2 linked regions of the Homo sapiens genome follow. The protein of the gene in region 2 purifies or fractionates together with the protein of the main gene of each other region. This does not show direct contact. Each region holds a gene or a part of one and is shown on either strand. Other genes may lie near its edges.

Region 1 (3,630 bases), on a different chromosome or scaffold from region 2:
TCCTCTGGGAATCTGTTACTAATGCAAATTATCAGGCTTCACCCTAGACCCTCTAGGGAGGAGGCCCAGCAATTCTGAGTAGCCTCACTCGATCCCAGGTCCTCATCCAGGGCTTCTCACGCTTTCATGTTCCTACAGATCACCTACCATCTTGTTCAAATTGAGATTTCCTCCCTCACTTTCCTGTGAGCTTTTGCTAGGGTCCGCCCCTCCAGGGAATGCCTCCCTCCTCCACCTCTAGATGTTTACATGCTACCTCTACATCCCAGCTCAGATGTTACCAAAAGCCACCAAGCTTATTCCCGCATCTGGAAATATCTTTCCCTCTGAATTCCTGGTGGCACTTGCTCTGAACTTTTCCTACAGCACTGAACCCTTTCTGTCTTGCACTGGAGTTTTTACAGACACATCCTCTCCCTTCCTAAACCGTGAACTTGAGGTCGACATGCAGGTGGCAGGCACCTTCTCACTACCCATGGAGCTCAGCTCAGTGCCTGGCACAATAAGCCTCTGCTGAACGCATGAGCAAGGGAAACGCACCACAGCTGTGGAATTGTTGACGGTGTGCTCAAAGATGAAGGGGGTGTCCGGCAGGTCCACAACCACAGAAGATTCTGAGTGCGTTGAGGAGGTTTCTGTCTCCAGCTCAGGGTTGTCAAGGTCCAGCAGGCCCCTTGTGGCCATCTGGGACTTCGATGGGCATGGGCAGGGGCCGAGCGCCAGGTCCTCATTTTCTGCATTCTTGGCCATTGGGGAGAAGCTGAGTTTGTTCAGCTCCCCCTCCAGCATCCCTGCAAAGAAGCTGCTGTTGGGCTGGGTCACAGCTAATTTGATGGGGTTCAGCAAGGTGGATGAGAAGGCAGAGATGCTGGTCTCATCAGAGCTGCAGTCTGAATCCTCTACTGGCAGCGGCTTCCTGGAGCAAAAGGGGAGACAGGTGAATCAGATGAAGGAGGCCACCCCAGCCCGTTCCACCTGAGGGCAGGCCTTGGGCCTGACTTACCAGCATCCCCAGCCATTTGCAAACAGCTTGGAACAGCCTCATTGCTCTATAGCATTGCATTAGACTCACCAGGGCACTTACTAAAAATGCAGACTTTTAGTCCCTGGTCCCCAGTTAGCATGGGACTAGAGAATCCGCATCTTTAATAAGATCCTGGCTGGGCGCAGTGGCTCACGCCTATAATCCCAGCACTTTGGGAGGCCGAGGCAGGCAGATTCAAGGTCAGGAGTTACAGACCAGCCTGGCCAACATGGTGAAACCCTGTCTCCACTAAAAACACAAAAATTGGCTGAGTGCGGTGGTTGGCACCTGTAATCCTAGCTACTTGGTAGGCTGAGGCAGGAGAATTGCTTGAACCCAGGGGGCAGAAGTTGCAGTGAGCCGAGATCACACCACTGCACTCCAGCCTGGGTGACAGAGTGAAACTCTATCTCAAAAAAAAAAAAAAAAAAAAAAAGCTTAGAAAATCCTGATGCAAGTGTTCTGCAAACCACAATTTAAAAAACATGCTAAAATGGCAAGTCCTCCCTCCAAAGTGGGGTGCAAATGCCCCAGGGAATAACCACAAAGATCTACTGGGGTATGGAAGTAATACATTCAATTTCACTAATGTTTATTTACTATTGTTTAAATTTTAATGGAATTACTAATATTTACTTACATTTTAGTGGCATTTAATAATACCTATTAATATCTAGCACGTAAAATTAACAGAAATACAAATACATATATGGGCCAGGCGCGGTGGCTCACACCTGTAATCTCAGCACTTTGGGAGGCCAAGGTGGGTGTATTACCTGACGTCAGGAGTTCAAGACCAGCCTGGCCAACATAGCGAAACCTTGACTCTACTAAAAATACAAAAAATTAGCTGGGCATGGTGGCGGTTGCCTGTAATTCCAGCTACTTGGAAGGCTGAGGTGGGAGGATCGCTTGAGCCTGGTAGGTGGAGGTTGCAGTGAGCCGAGATCCTGCCACTGCACTCCAGCCTGGGCAACAGAGTGAGACCCTGTCTCAAAAATAAAATAAAACAAATATACATATGTTGGTGTGGATGCTCAAAAACTTATTTCTTCCACTCTGAATTTTTTAAAATTATGAAGTATTTTAGACTTATACAAAAATATCAAGAATATTATATTAAACCTCCATTTACTCCTCATCTACCTTTAGAAATAAAATCTTATCACTATGGGTAAAGCCCCCCAGACACTTCTGTCTCCCACCAAAGTCCCCATCCTTCGACCGACAAGTAATGAGTACAGTAAAGTTTAAATTGTGTATTTATTACTCAATGTGTGTCTTTATAGGTTTCTTACATATTTATGTTATCCCTAGGCAAGATCTATTATTTTTCACGTTTGTAGATGTTGTACAAATAAAAGATATTATTCAGCACATACCCATCTGCAACATGCTTTTTTCACTCAACTTTGTGTTGACATTCATCTATCTTGATACATGTAGCTCTGGTTCAGTCGTTTTTACTGTTTTATGATTTTCCATTACATGGATATTTGTTTTTGTTTTTGTTTTTTGAGACAGGGTCTCCCTCTGCTGCCCAGGCTGGAGTGCAGTGGCACAAACTCCCAGGCTCAAGCCATCCGTCCACCTCCACCTCCTGAGTAGCTGGGACTACAGGTGCACATCACCATGTCTAGCTAATTTTTGTGTTTTTCTGTAGATGCAGGGTTTTGCCATGTTGCCCAGGCTGACTTCGAACTCCTGGGCTCAAGTGATCCTCCCAAAGTGCTTGGATTATAGGTATGAGCCACTGTGCCCGGCCTATATGGATATTTGTATTGTTATGAGATGTTTGCTATTACAAAGAAAAACCTTGTACATGATCCCCACCACTTAACATTTCTTTTTTCTGTTTTTACTCTTTTTTCTTTTTTTTTTTTTTTGAGCTGGAGTCTCGCTCTGTCGCCCAGGCTGGAGTGCACTGGTGTGACTTCGACTCACTGCAACCTCCGCCTCCCTGGCTTAAGCGATTCTCGTGCCTCAGCCTCCCGAGTAGCTGGGATTACAGGCCCACACTGCCACATCTGCCCAATTTTTGTATTTTTAGTAGAGATGGGGTTTTACCATGTTGGTTAGGCTGGTCTCGAACTCCTGACCTCAGATGATTTGCCGGCCTCAGCCTCCCAAAGTGCTGGGATTACAGGCGTGAGCCACTGCCCCCAGCCAAACAAAAAACAATATTTTTTTAACTGATGAAGAACACCAAGCCAAAAAGTTTGGCTTTCAAATCTTTTTTTACCTTTACCCAAAGTAAAATACACTTTCCATGGCAACTTAGTACATGCATATATACGCCTATAACTAAGACAAACATTTCACAGACCAACACTTACTCTGTGTGCAATGGGCTCTGGAATTTCCAATTCTATTATAGTTTATTTTATTTATTTATTTATTTATTTTTGAGATGGAGTCTCACTCTCTCAGCCAGGCTGGAGTGCAGTGGCGTGATCTCAGCTCACTGCAACCTCCGCCTCCTGGGTGAGAGTGATTCTCCTGCCTCAGCCTCCCGAGTAGCTGGGACTACAGGTGCGGCCACCATGTTCAGCTAATTTTTGTATTTTTAGTAGAGAAGGGGTTTCACCATGTTGGCCAGGATGGTC
Region 2 (4,459 bases):
GTTTTATTTTGTTTTTGTCAGTGTTTTTGCTTTTGGCCAGACGTTGGCATGCATTTAGAAAATCTAAATTAAATTAAATTAAATTATAATTATTCATCTGATGATAATGGAACATTTACAGGATGCAAAGCACTGTGCTAGGCACCAGGAGAATGCAGAAAGGGCACATCCCCTTCCTTCAAGGAGTTTACAGCTTTCTCAGAAGCAGGTATGATATATATATGTGTCTATATCACATAATAGAGGGATTATAGATAAGTTACACAAGTGTGGCTGTCAGCCATGGTAGCTGATTTGGAATCCCATCCTGTAAGTTACAGTTGGATACCCTAGAAAAAACACCCTTACTAAGCTTTGGTTTCCTCTTATGTAAATGATAATAGCTAACATTTATTGAGTGTCTGCTACGTGGCAGGGGTGTTCTATGCAGTTTATCATGTTAACTAACTTAAAACTCAGAACAATTGCAGAGATAGATATTATCATCATTTCCATATGTATATCCCTGTCTTATAGATAAAAGCACTGATGCTTTAGAGAGGTTATATAACTTGTCCCGGGTCATAGTTAGGAAGTGGTGAAGATAGGATGCAAATCCAAGCTGGCTGGCCTCAAATTCTGCCAATCCAACCACTGTATGACACTACCCCTCAAATGGGAACACAGTAAAACTTACCATGCGTAGTGAGGATCAACTGATAATAACGCATAAAAAGCTGTTAGCACAGTGTCTGACACATAATAAATGTGTGATAAATGTAGAAGTAGCAGTAGAAGAGATTAGACACATACAAACAACCAGAATCCCGGGCCAAAAATAAGTGCACACCTCCATTCTTTTTATGGGAAACCTCCTTCTTAGATACCAACCATTATAACCATGGAGTTACAGTGGAGAGCTGTGTTGAGGGGAGAACTGCAACATTTCTGAATCAGCATACAAGTGATCTATAATATAAGGAGCAATCATTTTTATATATGTCCATTTCCAAATCTCATTCAAAGAAGGTTAAGGTATCTGAAGTACCCTTCTATTAAAATTCAGACTGTATTTGCTAGAACAATTTCCAATTGAGCAACGTAAAAATGCATCTGCTGCCATTTCTCTTCTTCCCTCCTTTAATCCCTACTCCCCAATTTCCTTTAGAAAGAAACAACAGCATGGAGTTTCTTTTCAAGGTCTTAAAATAAAAATCTCCAAAAAAGGGATGCTGCTTATAAAACCTTTCAGAGTTGTTTGAAAAAGAAAAAAAATGCATAAAGAGCCAAGTGCTTATATTCTGGCCAAGTTATGAGGCTCTGAGAACAAGAGCTTGAGGGGAAGACTGTTAACCCCATCCACGCCACCAGAATTAGCTCTTTCCCTTTTGGTTTGCAAGCACTGCCTGTAAAGCCCTCGCATGAGAGGCCAGCCTGCTAGGGAAATCCAGGAATCTGCAACAAAAACGATGACAGTCTGAAATACTCTCTGGTGCCAACCTCCAAATTCTCGTCTGTCACTTCAGACCCCCACTAGTTGACAGAGCAGCAGAATTTCAACTCCAGTAGACTTGAATATGCCTCTGGGCAAAGAAGCAGAGCTAACGAGGAAAGGGATTTAAAGAGTTTTTCTTGGGTGTTTGTCAAACTTTTATTCCCTGTCTGTGTGCAGAGGGGATTCAACTTCAATTTTTCTGCAGTGGCTCTGGGTCCAGCCCCTTACTTAAAGGTAAGTTGTAATAAATTTACGGCATTATCTAATTGCATTTGTTAAGCTGATTTGCGTGATCTGATAAAGCTGTCAAATATTTTTGCCTAAATAATACAAAGCCATTTATTTACCAAAAAAAGTTTTGTGTGATTTACAGAAAAGATACTTCATAGAGAATTTTACCATTTGTATTCATGTTTTCTTGTTTCCTGCGAAATTAAATAGCAAGTACTAATAAATGATGGTGATTTTAGTGAAGACCAAGAATAGAAATGTGGAACTGTTGATCGCCTCAGTAGCATTCAGATCTTAGTGAAGCCTGAATCCTGAAATGTGTTTTGTAGAAGTACTTTATTACATATATGAAATAAACTATAAAGAAGGTAGTTTTTAAAAAAAATTTCAAATCAAATAATTTGTATGTTTTCCATGTTTAAATTATCTAAAGTTATTCAATCTCCTGAGCCTAACAGCAATGTAGAAACGGAACTTTTTGCTTTTCCAAAAGGTAGGAAAATTTCTCCTTTTATACTATATTCTTGTTTGATTATTTTTAAGTTATTGCGATTATTTTCCCTTTCTTGGTTCCCTTTTACAGCTTTATAACTAATTATTTTTTGCCTCCTACTATCATTTGTTAAGATGCTCACACATAGACCTAAAATTTCTCTAATTCTTGATAATGTCTTATTTACAAAAGCAAAAATGGGAGAAGAGAATTAAAGAGCTAAAGAGATTATGGTAACTCATATTATAATGTACTACCATTTCTGGCTCTCTTTTCTAAAATAAAGCAATAATGTAGGTTGTGCTTATTCATCCTTCCCAGGTATTAAAGGTCACTCTGCAAGAGAAAAAAAGAAAAGAAAGGAAAAGAAAAGAAAAAAAAACATGCTTTTAACTGCAGATCAATACTGTTGAAACAGTACACCAAGAGGTACTGCAGAAAGAGTATCTCTTTTGCACTGCCTTTAATCTGCAAAGAGGTTAAATATGTCACCTTGGCATTGTATCTGAGCTCTCCTCTGGCCCAGGGCCTAAGCACATTGAATAGAAATGTTCACTCAGTCCAAGTCAGCAGAAATCTTTTTTTTTTTTATTCTCCCCTTTCTCGTAGACACCAGCTTTTTTCAGTTCACAGCTTACTCAGTCAAACCTGATGGTTGTGACTATTGTTAACTATGATTTTTTTTTTATTCAAAACACCCTCTTTGGAAAGATTTAAGTTAATATTTCTGTTCATTTAATAAGATCTAGCAAAGCAGAGCAGTTTATTTCATCTACTTATCGTCCAATCAACTAGTGCCACTTTCCACATTTTGGAGAAGAATATTCACATGTTATTTATGAACCTTGCCTTTTTCTTTCAGAGAATTTTTCACACAGCCATTGAGCAATTAGAGTGCTGGCATTTCCTTCCTAGGTCTTTTGAGATTTAATCCCCAGTAGCTCCTCATGGCACAGATTCACATATCAACTAAGTAAAAATAATAGTGATGACAGAAATAAAATGAATAGTGATGCATCTGGACAACTTGAAAACATTATTTATTTCATTTCCTCTTGACTGTTCTTTTTACTCAGTTGACTTAAACACTGCTATTTTACTTAAGTTTAGCACCATATCCAGAACTGGTTGGGAACATTTTTCTACCGAGAAGGGCATAAACAACTTGTTAGAAGATCTGAAGTGCACATAGTCCTCACTTATCCCTCTAGAATGATCTTCAGTGGAGAAGGAGACCCCCATAAATAAATCCAGTAGAACTTCCCAGTAGGCCTGGCTTCCTGAGAGATGTCCAACCAGGCCAGGGTCTGTTTCTTACGGGGCTCACAGGGCATCTTCTGCCAAAGGCTGAGTTAGCGATGATAGCATTACCTAGGGCTAGCCTGGCTTTTGTCTTAGTCATCAAAAGATGGATAGAACTTTGAAAAACAGAGTGCATGGTCTTGATGATTGTTCCAAAGGTGGGGAGGCAATCTAATAAAGTGAATAAGGCCATGACCTGTGGTTTATATCTGACCATATGGACCCTGTTTATATAAGACCGTGGTTTATATCCAAGCTTTACCACAAAATAGCTCTGTGACTTTGGGCAAACAACTTCATCTCTTTGTGCCTCAGTCTCTTCATTCATGGAAATGGGATTATAAAATCAGTAGCTACCTCAGAGATTTGTTGTAAGAATTAAGTGAAGAAAAGAGCCATGTTTGGTACATTAAAGCAATCAATCAATCGTAGATAATATGAAAGTACTGGACTAACTATATGTCCCTATTGAAACTCCGTAGAACGGGAACTGACTCTAGATATTTTCTCAGGGTTTCTTCCTTGTACTTATACGTTTTGCTCTATAATAAAATATGAATGCCAGGTGTATGCCTCTGAGGCAGCACAGCAGAGTGGACAGAGCATGGGCTTCAGAGTCCAATGCATCTGGGCTAGAATCCTGACTCTGCTTCTTACAATCAGTGTAAGCTTTGGCAGTTACTTCCCACCTGCATGACTCAGTTTACTCATCTGTTTAGCAAAATGGGGATAATAATACACACAAATGAGGTCGTTGTAGGAATGAAATGTGATGTTTATTAAATGCCAAGTATAGCACCTGGCAGAGAAGTAAACACATAGGAAAGTTGACTGGTTGCTCATAAGGAATCTCGTATATCAGTGAGGCCTCTGTTACATACTTGCAATGATTTCTCTGGTAGTAACAATGGAGATCAAGAAGGAAATATTCTTTGAATTGCCTTTTTTATCCAAAGAAA

The links.
Region 1: the proteins of SPARCL1 (region 2) and FNDC8 purify together in Homo sapiens (affinity purification with mass spectrometry; one large-scale study listed by BioGRID and IntAct). This does not show direct contact.

What each region holds. Positions count from the first base shown.
Region 1 is NC_000017.11:35,124,328-35,127,957, reverse strand, and holds part of FNDC8 (fibronectin type III domain-containing protein 8), read right to left. Parts: intron 917-3,630; coding exon 541-916; intron 1-540.
Region 2 is NC_000004.12:87,526,294-87,530,752, reverse strand, and holds the start of SPARCL1 (SPARC-like protein 1 isoform 1 precursor), read left to right. Parts: upstream 1-1,376; 5' UTR 1,377-1,708; intron 1,709-4,257; exon of another isoform or gene 4,258-4,459.